5 separate regions of the Homo sapiens genome follow, and all the other regions are linked to region 1. Evidence: fine-mapped expression QTL. A gene starts in region 1. Each other region holds a variant in brackets. All regions are shown on one strand. Distances are from middle to middle. Region 1 holds the start of DENND3 (DENN domain containing 3). Region 2 overlaps DENND3 (DENN domain containing 3). Region 3 overlaps DENND3 (DENN domain containing 3). Region 4 has its middle 32 kb from the start of DENND3. Region 5 holds the start of LOC105375785 (a long non-coding RNA gene).

Evidence for each region. PIP is the estimated chance that this variant, and not a neighbour inherited with it, causes the effect.
Region 2: its variant is the best candidate, but not a certain one, in a credible set for the expression of DENND3 in whole blood (INTERVAL, PIP 0.75).
Region 3: its variant is the best candidate, but not a certain one, in a credible set for the expression of DENND3 in whole blood (Lepik 2017, PIP 0.89).
Region 4: its variant is the best candidate, but not a certain one, in a credible set for the expression of DENND3 in whole blood (TOPMed, PIP 0.79).
Region 5: its variant is the best candidate, but not a certain one, in a credible set for the expression of DENND3 in T cells (TOPMed, PIP 0.65).

Annotation. Positions count from the first base shown.
Region 1 is chr8:141,126,179-141,130,190 of GRCh38, forward strand. DENND3 (DENN domain containing 3) reads left to right here and starts at 2,411. Exons shown (of 23, transcript NM_001352890.3): 1 at 2,411-2,631. The coding sequence starts at 2,530. DENND3-AS1 (DENND3 antisense RNA 1) reads right to left here and starts at 3,963. Exons shown (of 2, transcript NR_183310.1): 1 at 3,846-3,963; 2 at 1-293. RefSeq lists enhancers at 1,007-1,838, 2,672-3,502 and a silencer at 1,957-2,816.
Region 2 is chr8:141,157,847-141,161,988 of GRCh38, forward strand. DENND3 (DENN domain containing 3) reads left to right here. Exons shown (of 23, transcript NM_001352890.3): 9 at 2,786-2,941. Among named protein-coding and RNA genes, the nearest start is that of DENND3-AS1, 30 kb to the left of the region's middle. RefSeq lists an enhancer at 720-839. The variant T/G (reference allele first, on the strand shown) is at 2,522.
Region 3 is chr8:141,188,723-141,192,864 of GRCh38, forward strand. DENND3 (DENN domain containing 3) reads left to right here. Exons shown (of 23, transcript NM_001352890.3): 19 at 264-424; 20 at 1,562-1,695; 21 at 3,609-3,727; 22 at 3,804-3,941. Among named protein-coding and RNA genes, the nearest start is that of DENND3-AS1, 61 kb to the left of the region's middle. RefSeq lists enhancers at 3,403-3,903, 3,904-4,142. The variant C/T (reference allele first, on the strand shown) is at 1,910.
Region 4 is chr8:141,094,603-141,098,744 of GRCh38, forward strand. No RefSeq gene overlaps it. Among named protein-coding and RNA genes, the nearest start is that of DENND3, 32 kb to the right of the region's middle. RefSeq lists a silencer at 1-179 and an enhancer at 425-1,424. The variant C/A (reference allele first, on the strand shown) is at 2,133.
Region 5 is chr8:141,202,514-141,206,655 of GRCh38, forward strand. LOC105375785 (a long non-coding RNA gene) reads right to left here and starts at 846. Exons shown (of 4, transcript XR_007061124.1): 1 at 1-846. RefSeq lists a silencer at 3,318-3,727. The variant GA/G (reference allele first, on the strand shown) is at 2,055.

The DNA of each region.
Region 1 (4,012 bases):
CTGAGCCCACATGCAGTAAGCACTGACCGTGTTTGCAAGTTTCTTTTATCCAATCCGAGCTTTGCTTTCCTCGACTCTGATGTGGGGCAGTGCTGCCTACTGGGGCAGATGTTCCTGCTGGCTGGGCTCTCCTTGCACCTCTCTTCTTCTCTAGGTCCCCTCATCTGCTCATCTGCCTCGATGTGACTTCCACCTTTGAGTTTGATTGCTAGTCATCTCCACCTCGTATCTCCAAACCCATTAGCAATTTTTCAAGGATGGGACAAAGCTTTCCGTAGGCACTTTGGAAGGACCTGTGGCATGAGAGACGGGAGCGTATTAAAAAGTGCAGAACTGGGAGCCCCTCAGAGGTCATCTGGCCCAATTATCTGGTTTTAAGGAGGAGGAAAAGGGGGCATAAAGGAGTGGATTGCAAGCTCTGTGCACTGCTGGAGCTCTCTTCCTTAAAGCATTTGGCCTCTTGGTGATAAAGGGACAGCAGAGACCTGCTCTCGCGTGAGCCTTACTGGGTCCTGGTGGCAAGAGCTGCCATGTGTTTACCTCCCTTGGATCTTGACCACTGCCCCTCAGGAAGTCACGGCTTAGGGCTGTTGAGCTCACCTGTCACACAGCAACACACAGGAGCCAGACTCAGGCCCTGTGTGCCCTCAGGGAGTGGCTCATGGCTCCAGCCCGGGTTGAGAGCGCCTCTCCTGCATGCTGGGGACTCTAGGTGACGGATTCAGGCTGTGTGCTTTGCAGAGGCTGCTAAAAATGAGGCCACCAAGGCTGGGTGTGGTGGCTCATGCCTGTAATCCCAGCACTTTGGGAGGCCAAGGCGGGTGGATCACCTAAGGTCAGGAGTTTGAGACCAGCTTGGCCAACATGGTGAAACCCCATCTCTACTAAAAATACAAAAAGTAGCCAGGTGTGGTGGTGGGCGCCTGTAATCCCAGCTACTCTGGAGGCTGAGGCAGGAGAATCGCTTGAACCTGGGAGGCAGAGGTTGCAGTGAGCTGAGATCATGCCACTGCACTCCAGCCTGGGCTACAAGAGCAAAACTCTGTCTCAAAAACAAACAGAAAAACAACAACAAAAAACCGAGGCCACCGTCGAGAGAGACAGGCAATTGTTCATGAAATCGGTCTTTCTTTTGAAGTCAGAGACTATAACAACTGTGGCCTCAGCTCACCGATGAGAGCCACCGATGGTAGGCAGCCTCCAGGCCTGGGGGAGAACCAGCAGATCCTCACCATCTTTAGGTTAATAAGTGAAATAAAACCTGTGAGTCAGGCTGCAGTCACGGCCTCACCCGGCTCAGGGAAGGAGGGAGAAATTCCTCAGGGCTCCCTTTTCTGATGTTGCCTTGCTTTGTACTTACTGTTCCTTTTCCTGTTCAGCTGATGACAGATGTTTGACATTAAGCATTTTAGAGTTTTGTTTTTTAGAAAATAGAATCATAGATTATCAGAAGTGGAAGTCCCTTTGGAATAATTTCCCCTGGGTTACACAGATGGCTATGGCAGGGTCAAGGGAGGGGACGGTCAGCGGGGACTGAGCGCAGGCCCCCTCCAGGCTCTGCAGCAATGACCAGGCAGCAAGCCGGCCTCCCGGGCTTGTGGGCTGTCCTCTTTCTCTGGGGTCAGCCTGAGGCTGGAAGAGGCCCGTGGCCCACCGGGCATCAGGCCAAGCCTGGAGCTGACCAGGGAAGGGCCCTGCCAGGCCTTGGGCCTCTGACCCTCAGTCCTGAAGCCTCCCTCTAGCGGCGCCCACCCTGCTCCTTTTCCTGCTGAATTTTACTCAAGTCCGTACTTGAGTATGGCCGGCCCTAGGTTAACCCCGCAGAGTTATTAACCAGGAGTGGCTCTTTCCACCCCCCCTTCCCGCCGGCCCTTCCTGCTGTCCACACCCGGCCAACTCCACTGTCCTGGCAAGGGAGGGCTTCCTGGAGGCGGCAGCGGGCGGCGCGTCCGGCCTTTGTCCCCCCACGCTCTCCAGGGTAGGTCCAGGGACTGCCAGATCAGGGGACCCTTTGCGTCCTGGAGCCTTGGGGGCTGGATGACGTCGCCGGGCACCTGAGGACCCCGCCCATTCCTCCCTCGGTTCCCCAGGGAGCGGGCGGCCGGCGGGGCTGGGCGGGGCCGAAGGAAGGGGCCGCTTGCTCCGACGCCGCGCACGCGCCAGGGCCCGCAGGCGGGTTAGGAAATGACGACCGCGCGCGGGTCTCCAGCAGCACCCGCCCTAGGACCGGCCCCGCCCCCAAGTCCCGGTCCCTAGGGCCGGGCACGCCACTCCAGGCCCCGCCCAGAACCTCCCCGCCCAGTCAAGCCCCGCCCCCAAACTCTGTCTCCCCGCGGTATCCTCTGGGGCTCTCCAGGCCCCGCCTCGGCTCGGGCCCCGCCCCTCCAGGCCCCGCCTCCAGCCCCGCCCCGCAGACGGCGCTCGCAGCGCCCCCGGCCCCCAGGCGGCGCGGCTGGTCCCCAGGGGTCTGCGGGCGACTGCGCGGCTGAGGCGCCCGAGTGCGGTACTGGCGGCGGGCGGCGGGCAGCCATGGCGGAGGCCGCGTCGCCGCACTTGTCGCTGCCCTCGGGGCTGCTGGAGCTCTGCGCGCTGCTGGGCGCCCCCCGGGACAGTCTCCGAAGTCTCGAGCAGGTGAGGGGCGGGGAAACTGAGGCGGACGTGGGCCACGAGTCGGCAGCCGGGACAGCAGTCGGAGAGCGGGCGCCCGGGTGCCCTGTGGGTTGGCGCGGACTTTCCGAGGGCTGAGTCCCGGTCCCCCGGCGGTGACCCCGCGCGCCTGTGGCCGGGGATCGCGCCCGAGCTCAGGCAGGTGCCCTGGAGCAGCGCCCTGCTCCCCTCCCCTCTTCTCTCCTCTCCCCGCCCGGGGCCCTTGGTGTGAGACATGTCTTTTGAGAGCTGCGAACTTGGTCCGCCGGCCGGGAATCTGGGGGTGCCGCCCCTCGGAGAGTCTCTGGGGCCTCTCTCTTCAGTCGCTCCCATCTTGGGCAGGTGCTTCTGAAGGTGGGGTGCACCAGACAACGGGCGGAAGCCGCCGGAGCCTCACGGTCTAGCGGGCCCAGCCCTCGCTGCTGAAATGATTTCATTCTTTATGCTGGGATGTGTTGTCCCCTGAGTAGTGGGTTTTGCACCAGGCACAGAATAACGAGAGAGCAATCTTAGAGTTAGCCGCCGGCCTCGCGTATTCTGCATGAACCCCTTTGCGATGAAGCCTATAGCTATTTTTCTCCCTTGCGGTACCACCCCCACCCCCAACCCTTCCTCCATCTCTGCACCCTCGCAGCCAAAGTGACAACTTCATCTCCCTTCTGCTGGGAAAGCGGCAGTTTTGGAAATTCTCGTTTTCCTTTTTCTTCCCCAGCTTTTCTTAATTCTGTAACGCTGGCTTTCCCTGGAATCCATCTGTGTCTCTGGTTTCCTCCTGGTCCGCCTGTCTGTGACACCGTGACTGGGTCATGTTACCTAGAGATCCCGGCGTCACTGGCCAGCCGTCTGCACAGGTCCGTTCATCTCTTTGCAGACAACAGCATAGAAAGGCAGAGAGGCTTCTGAGTATTTAAATGACGCTGGGCTATCCAGGGAAAATGAAGACTGCAGGGCAGAGGGTGTCACCAGGAAAGGCAGATGTTCCTGCAAGTAACCAGATGAATGTCTGTGAGTGTCCGGGGAGTTTCCCCTGCTGGGCGTCAGTACCAAGCCAGTTTCGACTTCAGTGAAAAAGCATTCTCCTATGGAAATAGTTTCCTCGTTTCCCTCAACTTTTCCTTCCCTTCAACGCCCTGTCATGTCAGTAGATCCCGTTTGACCTCTGTCTCCTCGCAACGTCATCGATTGATTTGTCTCCCTACCTCGAATTTGCCAGATGGCATCTCCTCCTTTTTCTTCGAATAGGAAGTGACCTAGTTGCCGCTGTGGTCTCCTCAGCCGTTGAACGTCTTTCCTCTGGGGCAGTTACAACATGGGTGTTAGTTGCTTGGTGTGACACATGTCTTTTGAGGGCAGGGCGAATCAACTG
Region 2 (4,142 bases), 32 kb after region 1:
CCTTCCAGGTTCAAGCGATTCTCCTGCCTCAGCCTCCGGAGTAGCCGGGATTACAGGCATCTGTGACCATGCCCGACTAATTTTTGTGTTTTCAGTAGAGACAGGGTTTCACCATGTTGGCCAGGCTGGTCTCGAACTCCTGACCTCAGGTGATCCACCTGCCTGGGCCTCCCAGAGTGCTCAGATTACAGGCGTGAGCCACCGCGCCCAGTCGGAGAACTACCTTTATTATTGTTCTTGCATCTTAAAAAATTCCCTAAGGCCTTAAAGCCAAGCGATGGTCCTGCACAGGCAAGGCTGGTTTCTGCTTGCTTGGGCTGTGGAATCGCTGGGCTCTCCTCCCCAGCCAAGGGCACCTGAGCAGCTGTTCTGTTGGCAACTGTCCTCTGCGCGAACTTTGAAGGAGACACGTGCTTTCCCAATCATCTCAGTTACTTTCTGGTAAGCCACAGCTGCTTCCTTGACTTTTAGAGCGTGACATTCTGTAATAGAACTGAGCTTTGTGAGACTGTGTTGAAGCTCTGAGCATTCCCAGGAAGGTAGGATTCTGCCTGCATCCTCATCTTCTTGTTAGAATTCCGGAATAGAAACACACACGATACGGAGGCTGGGCCCCGCTTTGGCTAGATCCCCCAGAATGGGGATGCAGGATGTCGTGTCTCCCACAGCCTCATTTTTGGAGACTCTTTTGTAAACACAAGCTAATCCCTGTGCCATGGGTGACCTGTCTATAAGAGGCCTCTGAGCTCATGATACAGGTTGTGGGCTGCGGTGTCGTTGGGGTGCCTGCTCAAGGGGCTCTGGAGTACAATATGCATCTCTCTGCACGTGAGCGTGTGGCTGGGAGGGACGGGGCAGCCCCCTCCTTGCCCAGCTTTCCCCAGCACCCTTGGCTCTTGGTCACTCTCTTCACTGCTGTCTTCATCTCTGATGGAAGTCGCTCTCTCCCTGGGCAGCAGGGGTAGGGTCGCCAGCTCAGGGCTATGCTGGCTGCGTGCTTGGGTGAGGGAGGCATGGGGTTCCGGGAGAGGGGATGGCCATCTCCTTCAGACCCCACTGTCCCTGCACCAGAAGATGCAGTAAGAGAAGCTGCCACTCCAGGTGGCATCATAGCCCTTTTTACATGAGGAAAGTCATCAAAATTTCTTTCCCTGGCATTCTGCGTGTTCTTTCAGATGAAAGGCCAGTTTGGTGCTGGTAAACATCACAGTTCTTGAGACCCATCTAGGCAAGGGTAGTTGCCCAAGTCCTGTGAGTCTGGTCAGCCAGGGCTGGGCTGGCCCCTCAGCAGCTGCTGCTCAGCACGTTTGGAGAGAACCCTGGTCCTGGCCCTGGCACCGCGTGCCTGCCTGCTACCATCCCCTGGTGGGCCACTCCACCCAGAATCCCGTTCTTCCCTTTTCCTGTCCCTGCCTCCAGGAGGGTCAGGCAGCGGCAGGGGCCTGTGGCCAGTGCACCCTTCCCATCACAGAGAAGATTGGCTCCTGCCGGCCATGCTGACCTGGCCCACACTCCCACTCCCCCTACCATGCTGGGCCGCACTGGGTCCATCAAGTCCCCCGTCTGTGTCTTCCTGTCACATCTCCGGTTCCAGGTCGTCTCCTGGGAGAACTCTTCTCTGCCCGCTCAGTCTGACTGCCGTGTCTCTCTAGCCCATCGCTGTGATGTGCGTTTCTGCCTGATGTCCTCATTATCTCCTGTTTTCTTGATTTGTCTCTTTTCCTACTTCCTCCCACTCACATGGAAGTGCCACGCAGGCAGGGGCTTGGCCTGTGTCCACCACCCATCCCTAGCACACAGATCAGTGTATGGCATACAGTAGGTGCTCAAGAAATATGTGTGACCAGATATGCGTTGGTTCTGTTTATTTTGTATATTTCTAACGTCCCTCTAGACATGCAGCCTTTAGTGGTGTTGGGAAGGCCAGGGGTCCAATCTCATGGTGGCTCAGGGTTGACAGATATCTGTGAGTTCCTGTCCCTGAGTGAGGCCCTCTGGGGTGAGCCTTTGGCCATCTCCTGGTGGGCCAAGAGTGGTGACACCCGGGACGTTTGTTGCAGGGCACAGAGGGGCATCTGATCCTGCCTGGGCAGGAAGTACAGAGGGGAAGCCATGGGGGAGCTGTGACTGTCCCTTCTAGGCAGCCATGAGTGACCCGTCAAGAGGCAGCCTGACCTGGAAGCCTTTGGTGACCTAGAAGGGGGAGTGCCCTCACTGCAGTGGCAGGACAGGAATGAGCTGGCCTGGGTGAAGTGTGCATAGTCCAAGTCGAGGCCCATGTGAGTCCATGTGTGGAGGTGAATCCACTCTTCCAGTCTTCCAGCGATGTATTTTTTTTTTTTTTTTTTTAAGACAGAGTTTCGCTCCTGTTGCCTAGGCTAGAGTGCAGCGGCACTATCTCGGCTCACTACAACCTCCACCTCCCAGGTTCAAGCGATTCTCCTGGCTCAGCCTCCCGAGTAGCTGGGATTACAGGTGCCTGCCACCATGCCTGGCTAATTTTTGTATTTTTAGTAGAGAA[T/G]GGGTTTCACCATGTTGGCCAGGCTGGTCTTGAACTCCCTGACCTCAGGTGATCCACCCACCTCGGCCTCCCAAAGTGCTGGGATTACAGGCGTGAGCCACCGCGTCCAGCCCCAGTGATGTACTTTAATGACCACCCGCCCCTCAAATTATTGATCGGTATTTGTGTCTGTGAAGTGTTCATTTACCTGGTGGGCTGTGTGCTGGTGAGCGGCCGTGGCCAGTGCTGCTGGGGCTGAGCTAGCTTCGGTCTGCCTCCTTCCAGGGTGCAGAGCCTCCAGCTCCACCATGAGCTGCACGCCGCCCACCTCCTCTCCAGCACAGACCTGAAGGAGGGCCGAGCCCACCGGCGGTCCTGGCAGCAGAAACTCAACTGCCAGATACAGCAGACCACCCTGCAGCTGCTCGTGAGCATCTTCAGGTACGTGAGAGAACATTCCCAGTGTCCATGAGGAGGTAACCAGCCAGCCATCCATTCTATGGGGATCGTGCACCCCGCCCCAGAGGGCAGGCCATTAGTACCATTTGCCTGGCAAACATGAGTGGTCCCCGCCCCCTGCCAAAGCTTTTCTTGTGACTGTAACAATCAGCAGTTACAGGGAGTTTGTTCTTTTGATTCTGACCTTGCCTGTGCCTTCCTAACACCCTCTCCTGCTGGTGACTGCCTTCCTAACAGCTTCTCCTGCTGGTGACTGTGCCTTACTACCTTACTAACGCCCTCTCCTGGTGACCCCCTGCAGGTGGCTGTTTTGGGACAGCCCTCTAGGAAGACGCAAATCTGATAAACCTGCAGGGAGCACCTGTCACTCTGGCCTGTGCTGGCTCCGGGCTCTGGCTCAGTCCGTGGAGGGCTCTGTCCCGAGAGGCCTGCATCCAGGGGCTAGTGAGGGACAGACAGGCCATTTTGATGTGACTCATAAGCTAGATCATGAAACCATCTATGGGAGAGCCACAGGACGGGTGGGGCACTCAAGATGTGCCTGTTAGCAAGTTTTCTTTCTCCTCATTCCACTAATTACAGCATTAGCTACCTCCTGCATGCTATTGCTTCCCCAGCACCTGAGCTGGAATTGGTTAAGTGGACAAGTCAAGTGTGTTTATTTCAGTGTGATACAGTACAGGTATTGAGTTGCTATTTCTGGCCTAAATAGGCAGTCACTTAAGGAATGTATGGCAAAAATGATAGCTTCATAGATAAGTACTTTTTAATGCAAAAGCCTTTGGGCTTCTCCCACCCTTTCTCCTTTTCTCTGGCAGTGTTCTTCCTCTCCTTCTTGCTGGTTGCTCCCTGAGTCCAGCAGTGAAGGAGGCACCCCCGATGCTGGCCTCCTCTGTTCTTGAGGGGCCTTCCGCTTTGGGAGGTGGTTAGCACAGAGCCTGCTGGCTTGATCGTACTCTGCGTGATTATTTCAAAATGGAAATTTGAGTGGCCTTTTTTTTTTTTTTTTTTTTGAGATGGAGTCTCACTCTGTCACCCAGCCTGGAATGCAGTGACGCCATCTGGGCTCACTGCAACTGCCGCCTCCCAAGTTTAAGCAATTCTCCTGCCTCGGCCTCTGAAGTAGCTGGGACTGCAGGCGCCTGCCACCACCACGCCTAACTAATTTTTTCTATTTTTAGTA
Region 3 (4,142 bases), 63 kb after region 1:
GGCGGCCGTGGGTTTCGTGTTAATGAATCAATCATACGTAGTCAATAAGGTGTCTGTGAACAGAGCACGCGGAGAACAAGGTTATGCACTGATGGGTGGATGACAACGTCAGGGCCAGAGGCTCCCAGGACCCTGAGCCGGCGTGTCCCCTAGGAGCAGTGGTTCCATATCCGCTAATTCAGCACGTGCAGTAAATGTATAGAATATGACTTCACCAGTATCGAGACTGACTGATTTCTCACGTTCCCGTGGCCTCCTGTTAGAACTGCATGGTGATGGCCGACCAGAACCAGGTGTGGGTTGGCTCGGAAGACTCCGTCATCTACATCATCAACGTCCACAGCATGTCCTGCAACAAGCAGCTCACAGCCCACTGCTCCAGTGTCACGGATTTGATTGTGCAGGACGGACAGGAGGCACCCAGGTGCAGTAAGCTCTGCTGGGGAGAAGGGACTGTTTGGCTTGTGGGTGGGCAGAAGGCACAGCGGGTAGGGTTCCCAAGTCTTGTGCCCACAGGGGCCAGGCGGGGCGTACAGAGTGAAGTGGATCTAGAACGAGGAAAGCTGGGTGGTGTCCTCGGTCTGCTTCTGCTCACGGGTGCGGAGAACCCATGACACCAGTGTGGGCCAAGCGTGGTGATGAAGGCACCACACCCGGCCTTCCTGCTGAGCTTGCTGTGGGCACTGTGGCATGGGGCAGCCCCGAGAGGGCACAGCCTCCCAGAGGTGCACCAGCCATGGTGTCAGAAGCCTGGACTCGCCTGATAATCGCCTGAGTGCTCAGTGTTGGCCTTGGGCTGCCTGTTCGCTGCTGTTTCCCACAGTGGGAGCAGCACTGGACACGGGGCATCCAGGGAGACGGGAGGAGGAGGTGGGGTCTCCTTGAGCAGAGGCTCATGGTGGGGAAAGTGCACAAGGCTGCCCACTTGGTCCAGGCAGCCCCAGCCCTGGGTGAGGGGCCACACTCCCCACTCCTTTTTCCCCTGACTTAGTGTCGGGGGCGCCTGTGTCAGGCCCTGTTGGGGTGGGTAGGGAGGTGCTAGTCTGGAAGCAAAGCTGGCTCAGGAGGTTCAGGGGTGGCGCAGGGTGCAGGCTCGAGCCCAGCCCCGCCCACAGCCGCCTGCACCTGCAGCCAGCCCATGTCACCCGAGAGCTCTGAGGATCGTGCTGGCTCCCTGGTCCCTTGTGTGAACGGGGACCGCTGACGAGGTTCCATTTCAGTTCATGGTCATGTCATGGCTCTATGACAACACCTCATTGAGCCTGCGGCCCGCGGTGGTGGGAGAGGTGGGCGTCCCGAGAAACCCGCCTTTTCCTGCCGAGTCAGTTACATTTGAGCCAAGCCTGGCTGTGGCTGCATTCATAGCATGTTTGCATGTTATTATCATGTTTGCAGGTTACGTTTGCAGGTTATTATGTTTGCATGTTATTATCATGTTTGCAGGTTATCCGTGTTGAGCACATTTTCTCTCATGGCGACTTGGTTCTCTCTTGGGTTAAAATGTGCACAGTGTTTTCAGGGGCCCAAGTTAAAGGTGTGTGTGTGTGTTTTGTGCCCCCAGCAACGTGTACTCGTGCAGCATGGACGGCATGGTGCTGGTGTGGAATGTGAGCACACTGCAGGTGACCAGCCGCTTCCAGCTGCCGCGAGGTGGCCTGACGTCCATCAGACTGCACGGCGGCCGCCTGTGGTGCTGTAAGTCCGGCCCCTGCCATCAGAGCGGGCACCCTACCTCCCTGCTCTGGGAAAAGGATGCTGAACGAGAGCAGAAAGCCTCTTTCCTTTGCTTCACGCCTTTCCAGTCTTTATTTTAAACTCGGGTTCCCTTTCTGTGGTCGCAGCAACCTTTACTCCACCTGCACTGCTGCTCCTGGGGGCTCCCCAGGCCTCCCTCTGCCTTTCTACCCAG[C/T]GGCTGACGGGATGCCTGTCTTGCCTGGACGCACCACTGCTCTCCTGTCCCTCACCTTGGCTTTTGCTGTGCCCTGCTCTGGGGTTGAAGCTGGCCCATGTGTCCCCCGGAGTCATGGCTGCTCCTCCTGGGAGGCCTCTGTGTGCGTCACGTCTCCACACCTGGGGGCAGCTGGCGAGCCCGTGCTCTGTTCCCCTCGGCTGCTTGGCACAGAGCTGCAGCCTGGGACTCTCCGTGGACCCAGACTGGGGATTTTGCCAGGGGGGCGATGGGAGGAGCAGGTGCTTTGCCTGGCGGCTGTGTCTGCATTTCTGGACGCCCCAGAGCACAGAAGTTGCCGGCACTTTGAGGTCTTCCTCGGCATGTGCCAGATTACATGAGTGACGGCTGGGAATATGTTTTCTTTTTTGTAATGGAGGCGTGTTTCACATATAGTAAAGCTCACCAAAAAGTGCTCAGTTTGTTGTGTTTTGACAAACATCTAAACTACATAACCATGAAACAAATCAAGACACGCAGCGTTTCCGTCACAGCTGAAAGCGTCTGTGCCCCTTTCCAGGCCGTGCCGCCATTCAGGGGATACAAGTGCTCTTAGTTCTGTCATCTGAATTTGGTTTTTACAGAACTTTCTACAAATGGACTCTACAGTAGGCCTTCTTCTGTATCTGGCTTTATTCAGACAGCAGGATGTTTATAGTATTCATCGCTGACGTTCTGAGTATCAATATCAATAGCTCGTTCCTTCTTGCAGGGTAATAGTCCATTGTGTGCATATGGAACATGCTCATCCTTCCCCTGCCCCAAGTGGGCACTGGGTTCACTCTGCTTAACTGTTTGAAAAACCGTCAGACTGTTTTCTGAAGTGGCGGCAGCAGCTTCCACGCCACCCGCAGTCTCAGGCTTCATTTCTTCACATCCTCACCCAAACTGGTTCTCACCTGTTTTTACTGACACCGTCCCCGCGGGAGTGAAGTGGCGTCTTGTGGTTTGGATCTGTGGCTCCCTCATGGCTGATGGTGCTGAGCACTCTGTCGTGTGCCCGGTGCCCGCTGACGCCTCCCTGGGAGCAGCGCCTGTGCAGGCCCCTGCCCACTGTTCCGCTCACTTTCAGGGCCGGTAGCGACGTGGTTGGGTGCAAGCCAACGGTTGTCCTTCTTCCCCTCATCTGTTATTTGTTCTGTTCTTCCTTTCTTGCCCTCTTTTGTATTGAATATTTTTATGTTCAATTTAATCTTCTTTACTGTTTTTAAGCATTATATTTTTGTTTTATTTTTCAGTGGTTGCTCTAAGAATTGCAATATGCAACCTTAACCGATCACCCTCCTCCTTAACTAACTATGATACTGCTTCATGGATAGGGTAAGAAGCTTACAACAGTATCAAGTGTGGTACTCCCAATAATACATTCTTTAAGATTTTTGCTTAAGCAGTCAATGATCTTTCAAGAAAGTTAAGAAAAATTAAGAAACTGCCCATATATTTACGTTTTCTGGTGAGCCTCATTTCTTCTTAAAGACCCAGGGTTCTAGCTTGCATTTTTTCCCAGTAGACCTCACCTGTGCATTCCTCAGGCGCCAGGTGGCACGTGGTGATCCCCCCCATCACCACGCTGGAAAGAGCAGTGAGGCCGGCTCTGGTGCTGGCGTCTTATGTTGCCAATGACACTGCCTGGCCCCATCCTAGCTCCTTCCTTCCACAGGCACAGGTAACAGCATCATGGTCATGAAAATGAATGGATCCCTCCATCAAGAATTGAAGATTGAGGAGAACTTCAAAGACACCAGTACCTCCTTCCTGGCCTTCCAGCTCCTTCCTGAGGTATCCCAGCAGGGGCTGTGGGCCCAGCATGTGCGTGGCCCGGGGCCCATAGCCCACACCGTGCCCTGCGTTTCAGGAGGAGCAGCTGTGGGCGGCCTGTGCAGGACGCAGCGAGGTTTACATCTGGAGCCTGAAGGACCTGGCCCAGCCCCCGCAGAGGGTGCCCCTCGAGGACTGCTCTGAGATCAACTGCATGATCCGGGTGAAGAAGCAGGTAGGGTGGAGGGCCCGCCATCCCCAGCATCCCCGGCAGGTCTCGCTTGCCCTGGCCGCATCCCCATGCTCCCGAGAGCCAGCCGCACGCCCTCGTGCCCTCCTGCCTTCGCCTCTCAGGGTTCCCCTCCTAACAGGCACGTGCAGGGTTGGTGCCAACGGGCCCACAGGTCACCATGTGCTGGTTTCATGGTGTGGTCCA
Region 4 (4,142 bases), 32 kb before region 1:
GAGCTGTGCTGCTACCACAAATAATGAGAATATCAGAAAACCTGATACAAGGCCAATGGAGTCACTAACGACTCACTGGGGACCAGGGATGTCTTCCTGGAGGAGGTGGAATCGGAGCAGGGCTTCGGAGAGTGGACGGGATTTGGGGTAGACCAGGGTTTCACAACCTTGACATTGACATCTGGGGATCATTCTCTGGTGAGGGGCCGTTCCGTGCACTGCAGGGTGCTGAGCAACATCCCAGGCCTCCACGCATTTGATGCCACTTGGCACCCCCAGACCCCGAACAGTTGTGACAATCAAAAGCATTTCGAGAAATTGCCAAATGTTCCCTGGGAACAAAATTTACCCCAGTTGATTTTTTTTTTTTTTTTTTTTTTTTGAGATGGAGTCTCATTCTTGCCCGGGCTGGAGTGCGGTCGTGTGATCTCGGCTCACTGCAACCTCTGCCCCTAGGGTTCAAGCAAGTCTCCTGCTTCAGCCTCCCGAGTAGCTGGGATTACAGGCCCCTGCCACCATGCCCAGCTAATTTTTGTATTTTTAGTAGAGACGGGGTTTCACCATGTTGGCCAGGCTGCTCTTGAACTCCTGACCTCAAGCGATCAGCCTGCCTCGGCCTCCCAAAGCACTGGGATTACAGGTGTGAGCCACCGCACCTGGCCCAAAATTTCCCCCAGCTGAGAACTGCTGGATCCGAGAACCACGCACAGATTAGAAATGGAGAAAAGCCTGAAACTCCCTGGAGGGTCTGAGCTTTGCAGACGCTCCCTCCTGCCCTTAGGTGTTAGTTCTGTGAGAGGCCAGCATGGCCACTGCCTGAGGTCCTCACAGGAGTCTGCTTCCTGCCCAGCCTTACCCTGGGTCTCACAGCCTGACCTCGGGCCTTCCTGCAGACCTGCCTGCTGTCCCAGCTGGAGCTCCTTCTCTCGAGAGTTCCTGTGACCCTGGCTGTGGCCAGAGCCGGGGTGCGGGATGGTCCCAGGCCTGATGGTGTCTGACCACGTGATCACACCCTCCCCAGACCGAGGAGGAACCTGGGGCTGGGAGGGAAGTGCCTTGCCCACAGCCACACGGAGGGCAGAAGCAGCCCTTCCCGGGCCCAGGCTGCTACTCGGCCCAGCCAGCTGCGTCTGACGGTGGCAGAGCTGCAGTGTCAGCGCCGGGAGGGCCCGCAGAGCCCCATGGGCAGGCTCTTATTTCACTGGTGGGGAGACTGAGGCCCTGGGGTGGGGGTTCCAGGCTAGTTATGGACAGAGCCAGACCAGAACTCAGATGTCCTTACTCCCAGGGTAGATGGGACCCTCGTTTGAGCATGTCATTATTAAGCCCCTGCGTTGTCCTAAGAGCTTTCTCTCATGTGTCCTTTCTGAGCACCTGCGGCGTCTATGCCACTCCACTGAGTTCTGTAAACCCCACAGGTAGGGGCAGAGGCCAGAGGGGTGGGTGACATGGTCAGCCTGCATCCCAGGGCACCCTGGACAGAGTGAACCAGAGGACGGGTGTGGAGTACGTAGCGGAACATCCTGGGAACTGCTACTCTCATGACCCTTGTGGCTACCATCAACCGTTTCAAGAGAGACTGCAGGGAGGCCCCACTGCTCCAGACCTGGGAGCCCCATGTTTCCAAGGCCCTGAGTTCCTCTATAAGTCCCAGGGGCAGGAGGAGGGGACGTGGAAGGTTGAGCTCCCACGCCCACCCAGCTTCACTTGGATTTGCCTAAAACGTTCTTTGAAACAAAGAATTCTATTGTTTAAGACACTGTTCTCAAACCAGGCACTGGGGCTGGAACCTGTGCCTTCTGGAATTCCCTGCCCTCTCGGAGGACTCCGAGACCTGGCTGCAGCCACCCCTGATTCTCCTGCACCGAGGAACACCCCGTGGGATGTGCTGGCCACTGATGGCTGACCTCTGTGCCGCCGTTGCCAAGGGTGGCCGGACTAAAGACACGCTTGTGAGAGCACCACGGGCTCCAGAGGAGTGGCTCCTGCTTCTGGGGGAGCAGCCAAAGCCTGCTCTGCGCTGCTTTGCAGAGACCTCTGAGCCAGCCAGGTGCTCCCAGGGGACGGGTGGGCCGCCGGCCTGCAGGTTATGCACAAAGCAAGGAAGTGTGACGCCACCAGAGGGAGGTAAA[C/A]AGAAGGACGCTTCCTCTTTCGCTTCCACAGGCCTCCTGCCTGATCCAGAAGGTTCTCAAACTACAGAAATATTTCCCTCCCAGCCTGTACAGGGGCTCAGGTAGCACTTCTGATGTTGCCCTCCTTGTTGGGGAGGAAAGGGAATTTTTTATTTTTATTTTTATTTTTTATTTTTTAGAAGGAGTCTCGCTCTGTCGCCCAGGTTGGAGTGCAGTGGCCCGATCTCAGCTCACTGCAAGCTCTGCCTCCTGGGTTCACGCCATTCTCCTGCCTCAGCTTCCCGAGTAGCTGGGACTACAGGCGCCCACCACCACACCCGGCTAATTTTTTGTATTTTTAGTAGAGACGGGGTTTCACCGTGTTAGCCAGGATGGTCTGGATCTCCTGACCTCGTGATCCACCTGCCTCAGCCTCCCAAAGTGCTGGGATTACAGGCGTGAGCCACTGCACTCGGCCTTTTTTTGTTGTTATTTTTGAGATGGAGTCTCACTCTGTCGCCCAGGCTGGAATGCAATGGTGCAATCTTGGCTCATTGCAGCCTCGGCCTCCTGGGTTCAAGAGCCTCACCTGCCTCTGCCTCCTGAGTAGCTGGGATTACAGGTGCCTGCCATCATGCCCTTTGTATTTTTTGTAGAGAAGGGGTTTTGCCATGCTGGCCAGGCTGGTCTCGAACTCCTGACCTCAAGTGATCCACCCACCTCAGCATCTCAAAGTGTTGGGATTACAGGCATGAGCCACTGGCGCCCAGCATTGAGTATGCATCATTTGTATGTGTTGGATACACTTCAAGTCTTCTCTTCTAGCTATTTTGAAATATACAGTAGTTGTTAACCAGAGTCACCCTACTCTGCTATCCAACGTTAGAACTTATTCCTCCTATCTAACTGTATGTTTGTACCGTTAGCCAACCTCTCTTCATTCCCCCACCCTCCTTTCCCTTCCCAGCCTCTGTTAACCAACATTCTACTCTCCACCTTCATGAGATCCACTTTTTTTGGCTCCCATGTACGAGTGAGAACGTGCCACATTTGTCTTTCTGTGCCTGGCTTATTTCACTTAACACAGTGACCTCCAGTTCCATCCACGTTGCTGCAAATGACAGGATTTTATTCTCATTTTATGGCTGGATAATATTCCATTGTGTAAATATACCGCCCTTTCTTTATCTTTTCATCTGTTGGTGACACTCCGGTTGAGTCCGTATCTTTGCTGTTGTGAATAGTGCTGCAGTTGATGTTTATGCGGGTGCAAGCATCCCTTTAATAGATGGATTTTCTTTCCTTTAAATACCTGGTAGTGGGATTGCTGGATGGTTTGTAGTTCTACTTTCAGTTTTTTGAGAAATCTCCTTACTGTTTTCCATAATGGCTGTACTAATTTATGCTCCCACCAACCAGTGGATGAATCCCTTTCTGTCCACATCCTTGCCAGCATCTGTTATTTTTTGCCTTTTTAATAACAGCCATTCTGGCTGGGGTGAGATGATATCACATTGCAGTTTTGATTTGCATTTCCCTGATGATAGTGATGTTGAGCATTTTTTTCATATACCTGTTGGCCATTGTGTGTCTTCTTCTGAGAGATGTCTATTTGTCTATTTAGATCCTTTGCTCACTTTTTAATGGAATTGTTTTAAAAACAAACAAAACAGGTGAGAGGACACTGCTAGAATCACAGAGGTGAGCTGGGGGTGTCTTGATGGCTGACAGCAGCTCACCCCCACCCCACCCACTTTACAGATGAGAAAACTGAGTCCCCGAGGGTTTAAGTGTTTAAACGTTTAACAGGTGATTGGTTGACATTGTGAACAGACAGGTTCTGGCACTGCAGCTTTAGGGGAGCCAGAAAGCCCTGCTTACTCCCAAATTGTTCCTCACTGTCCCATTGCAGAGAACATTTCCTTCACTAGCTTCTTCTCCTTTGGAGTGGCTGGGCCAGGACAGGAAGGACACCAGAGTCAGGAGGCCTTCTGTTCTGGCCTGGCTACTGACTCGGGCAAGCCGTGTTAC
Region 5 (4,142 bases), 76 kb after region 1:
GTCGTGGCCGGGCAGAGGCGCTCCTCACATCCCAGAAGGGGTGGCGGGGCAGAGGCGCTCCCCACATCTCAGACGATGGGCGGCCGGGCAGAGACGCTCCCCACTTCCTAGATGGGATGGCGGCCGGGCAGAGACGCTCCTCACTTTCCAGACTGGGCAGCCAGGCAGAGGGGCTCCTCACATCCCAGACGATGGGCAGCCAGGCAGAGACGCTCCTCACTTCCCAGATGGGGTGGTGGCTGGGCAGAGGCTGCAATCTCGGCACTTTGGGAGGCCAAGGCAGGCGGCTGGGAGGTGGAGGTTGCAGCGAGCCGAGATCACGCCACTGCACTCCAGCCTGGGCACCATTGAGCACTGAGTGAACCAGACTCCATCTGCAATCCCGGCACCTCGGGAGGCCGAGGCTGGCGGATCACTCGCGGTCAGGAGCTGGAGACCAGCCCAGCCAACACAGCGAAACCCCGTCTCCACCAAAAAAATACGAAAACCAGTCAGGCGTGGCGGCACGCGCCTGCAATCGCAGGCACTCGGCAGGCTGAGGCAGGAGAATCAGGCAGGGAGGTTACAGTGAGCCGAGATGGCAGCAGTACAGTCCAGCCTCGGCTCGGCATCAGAGGGAGACCGTGGAAAGAGAGGGAGAGGGAGACCGTGGAGAGAGGGAGAGGGAGAGGGAGAGGGAGACCGTGGAGAGAGGGAGAGGGAGAGGGAGACCGTGGAGAGAGAGAGAGAGAGAGAGGGAGAGAGGGAGAGAGGGAGAGAGAGAGAGAGAGAGAGAGAGAGAGAGAGAGAGAGAGAGACCGTGGAGAGAGGGAGAGGGAGACCATGGAGAGAGAGAGAGAGAGAGAGGGAGAGAGAGAGAGAGAGAGAGAGAGAGAGAGAGAGAGAGGGAGAGAGGGAGAGAGGGAGAGAGGGAGAGAGGGAGAGAGAGAGAGAGAGACCGTGGAGAGAGAGAGAGAGAGAGAGAGAGAGAGAGAGGGAGAGAGGGAGAGAGGGAGAGGGAGAGGGAGAGGGGGCCCCCTTCCTGTTAACATTGTACTAGAGATTCTAGCCAGGGCAATAGGGGGAGAAAAGGGGGGGGCATAAACATTGTACTGGTTCAGCAGAACATTGAGGGGAAAAAGATGATTGTACTGGAAGAGGCAAAACAATCTTTATTAGAAGACAGCAAGGCCATTTATATAAATCCTAAAGAATCTATTTTAAAAACTAGAATATTTTTCTAGTTTTTTCTATAAGGTACTGGATACAAGGTCAATATACAATCATTGCATTACTATATTCTAACAGCAAACAACTTGTAAACTGTTAAAATACAGTAGCATAAAAAACATTCAATAGAAATAAATTTAATGAATGACGTAAAAGACTGAAAACTCAAAAACATCGCTGAGAGAAAATGTTAAAGACTGAAATAAAAGATATACCATTTTCATGGACTGGGAGATTAAATATTGTAAAGATGTTAGTTATCTCCAAATTGATCTGATAGATTCAATTTAATCCCAATCAAAATGCTAACATAATTTTTAAAAAAGAAATTGAGAATTTGATTATAACATATATGGAAATGCAAAGTAGAATATTTAAGATAACCTTCAAAAAGAAGATCAAGCCAGGTGGGATGGCTCAAGCCAGAGGACTCATATACCTTTATGCTTTGCTAAAAAACTACAATAATTAAAACGGTAGGATTTGACATAAATATAGGTAATTAAATCAATGGAACACAACGTAGGGTCTAGATGCGCAAGCATAAAGTCAGTTGACTATAAAAAACAAAAATTCCAAGACAATTCGGTAATGAAAGTCTGTTCAGCAAATGGTGCTGCAATGACTGGATAAACGTATGGAAAAGGGAAGCAGCTCAACACTTACCTCACTACACATAACTTAACTCAAGGTGGCTCACCCACCTAAATGTAAAGCTAGAAGCTCTAGAAACAAGCACATCTTTGCCACCTTGGTGCAAAGATTTTTCTAGAGAGAACACACAAAAAAGCTAAACACTAAAGAAAAAATGGATAAATTGGACTTTATCAAAATATATCATTAAG[GA/G]AAAAAAAATATTTGCAATACTATATCTGACAAGAATTTTTATCCAAAATATATAGAGTTTTTACAAATCAGTAACAAGATGAACAGCTCAATTTAAAAATGGGCAAACAAGACCAGGCACAGTGGCTCATACCTGTAATCCCAGAACTTTGAGAGGCTGAGCGAGGCAGGAGGACTGCTTGAGCCCAGGAGTTTGAGACCAGCCCGGGCAACATAGGGAAACCCTATTTCTACCAAAAAAAAAAAAAAAAAAAGAAACAAAGCAGGGCATGGTGGCGTGCACCTTCAGTCCCAGCTACTCAACTGGCTGAGGCGGGAAGATGGCCAGAGCCCAGGATGCTTCAGTGAGCCACGATCAACCTTGGGCACTCCAGCCTGGGCAACAGAGGGAGACCCTGTCTCAAAAGAAAAAAAAGAAAAAAGAAGTTACACCCTGGAATGCTAACAGCTATTGCAGAATGCAGTAGGTCTACATGCAGGAACAAGGAAAGTTGAAAATATTTTGCTAAACAACAACAAAAAATGTAGGTTGCAAAACTCTGCATAGTGGTTCAAATTTCGTTTAAAAAAAATTAACATTAGTAGTGTGGAGACAAAGATGTGAAGACGGGCCGGGCGCGGTGGCTCACGCTTGTAATCCCAGCACTTTGGGAGACCGAGGCGGGCAGATCACTTGAGTCAGGAGTTCGAGACCAGCCTGGCCAACATGGTGAGACCCCCCCACCTCTACTAAAAGTACAAAAATTAGCCGGGTGCGGGCGTCAATTATCCCAGCTACTCGGGAGGCTGAGGTGGGAGAATCGCTTGAACCTGGAAGGCAGAGGTTGCGGTGAGCTGAGGTCGCACCATTGCACTCCAGCCTGGGTGACAAAGTGAGACTCCGTCTCAAAAACGAACAAAGACCGGGTTGGGAGGCCTGGGTCACTGATTCTCTGTCTTGGCGACTTCTTCTTGCCCCGTGATGGCCGCTGGGCACGCAGGGCTCATCCTTGGTGAGCATCCTGGGGAAAGGCCAGGAAAGGGGCGCAGCACCGGGTGTTCCCTCCTAGCCTGGTCGCTCGGGGGGAGCGTTGGTTGGCGGGGTGCAGGTCTGGTGCTCGCTCAGGTGGGCCAGGCACCCGCGCGCCAGGTGAGGCGGGCGGGGGAACACACGCCCCTGGCCCCTGCGCCGCCGTCACGGCCGCCCACCACCCGAGGGCGGGGGTCCTGGTGGGGTGTCGATTCCGCCTCCCCGCCCACAGGCACTGGGCCCCGGGCGGCCACCGGGGTGCGGGGCTCCCAGCGTCTCGGGCTCCCACTGCTTCAGGCCTGTCCAGGGGCGGGGAGCGTCTCTGTGGCCGCGGCGGGATTGCGGCGCGGTGGCCGGGCGTCCCCTGCAGGAAGCTGTTCTCGCTCGCTGCCTCCCCCACCTGGGAGGGAAGCGCCTGGATTTTGGGTCCCGCCGCCCTCCGCGCCCTGGGCCTCCACCTGTGTTCCCAAAGCCCAGCCACGAGTCTGGGGGTGCCGGGCGTGCCGTGGTGGGCGGAGGCTTCCACAGCCCCTCCCTGCCAGGGACGGCGGGGCGGGACATGGCGGGGCCGCACGCACCGGGTGGACGACAGGGGATGCCGCGGGCTCGCGTCAGCCAGGGCGCCAGGCAGGGTCCCAGATGGCAAATGGGGTCTTGGGTGCAGAGTCTGGGCGGCCCTGGCTCACCGCCCCACTCCCGTCTGGCCGAAGGACAGCGACCATCCCTTTAGTCCCCACCACAGGGCCATCAGCCTGCGTTTTGCAGCAGGGCGCCCAGGTAACAGCGCCAGAGTGGCCCAGCTGGGACTTGTCCCCAGGTCCGGAGGTTCCTGGCTTCCGTGGGCCCCCAACTGCGCAGGTCCCATCCAGGAGCCCCGTGGTGACACCCCCCAACTATCAAAGTCCCTCGTCCCTTTCTCCCTCGTCTGAGCAGATCCCTTCTACTCCACACCCCGGCCCTGCTGGGACCCCTTCCACGCCCCACAAATCAGAAGAGCCACTGAAGAAAACTTGCTTCCGGATTCAAACCCCAGCAGCTGGGTAACCCGGGGCAAGTCCCCTCCCTTTCATTTCCTCCA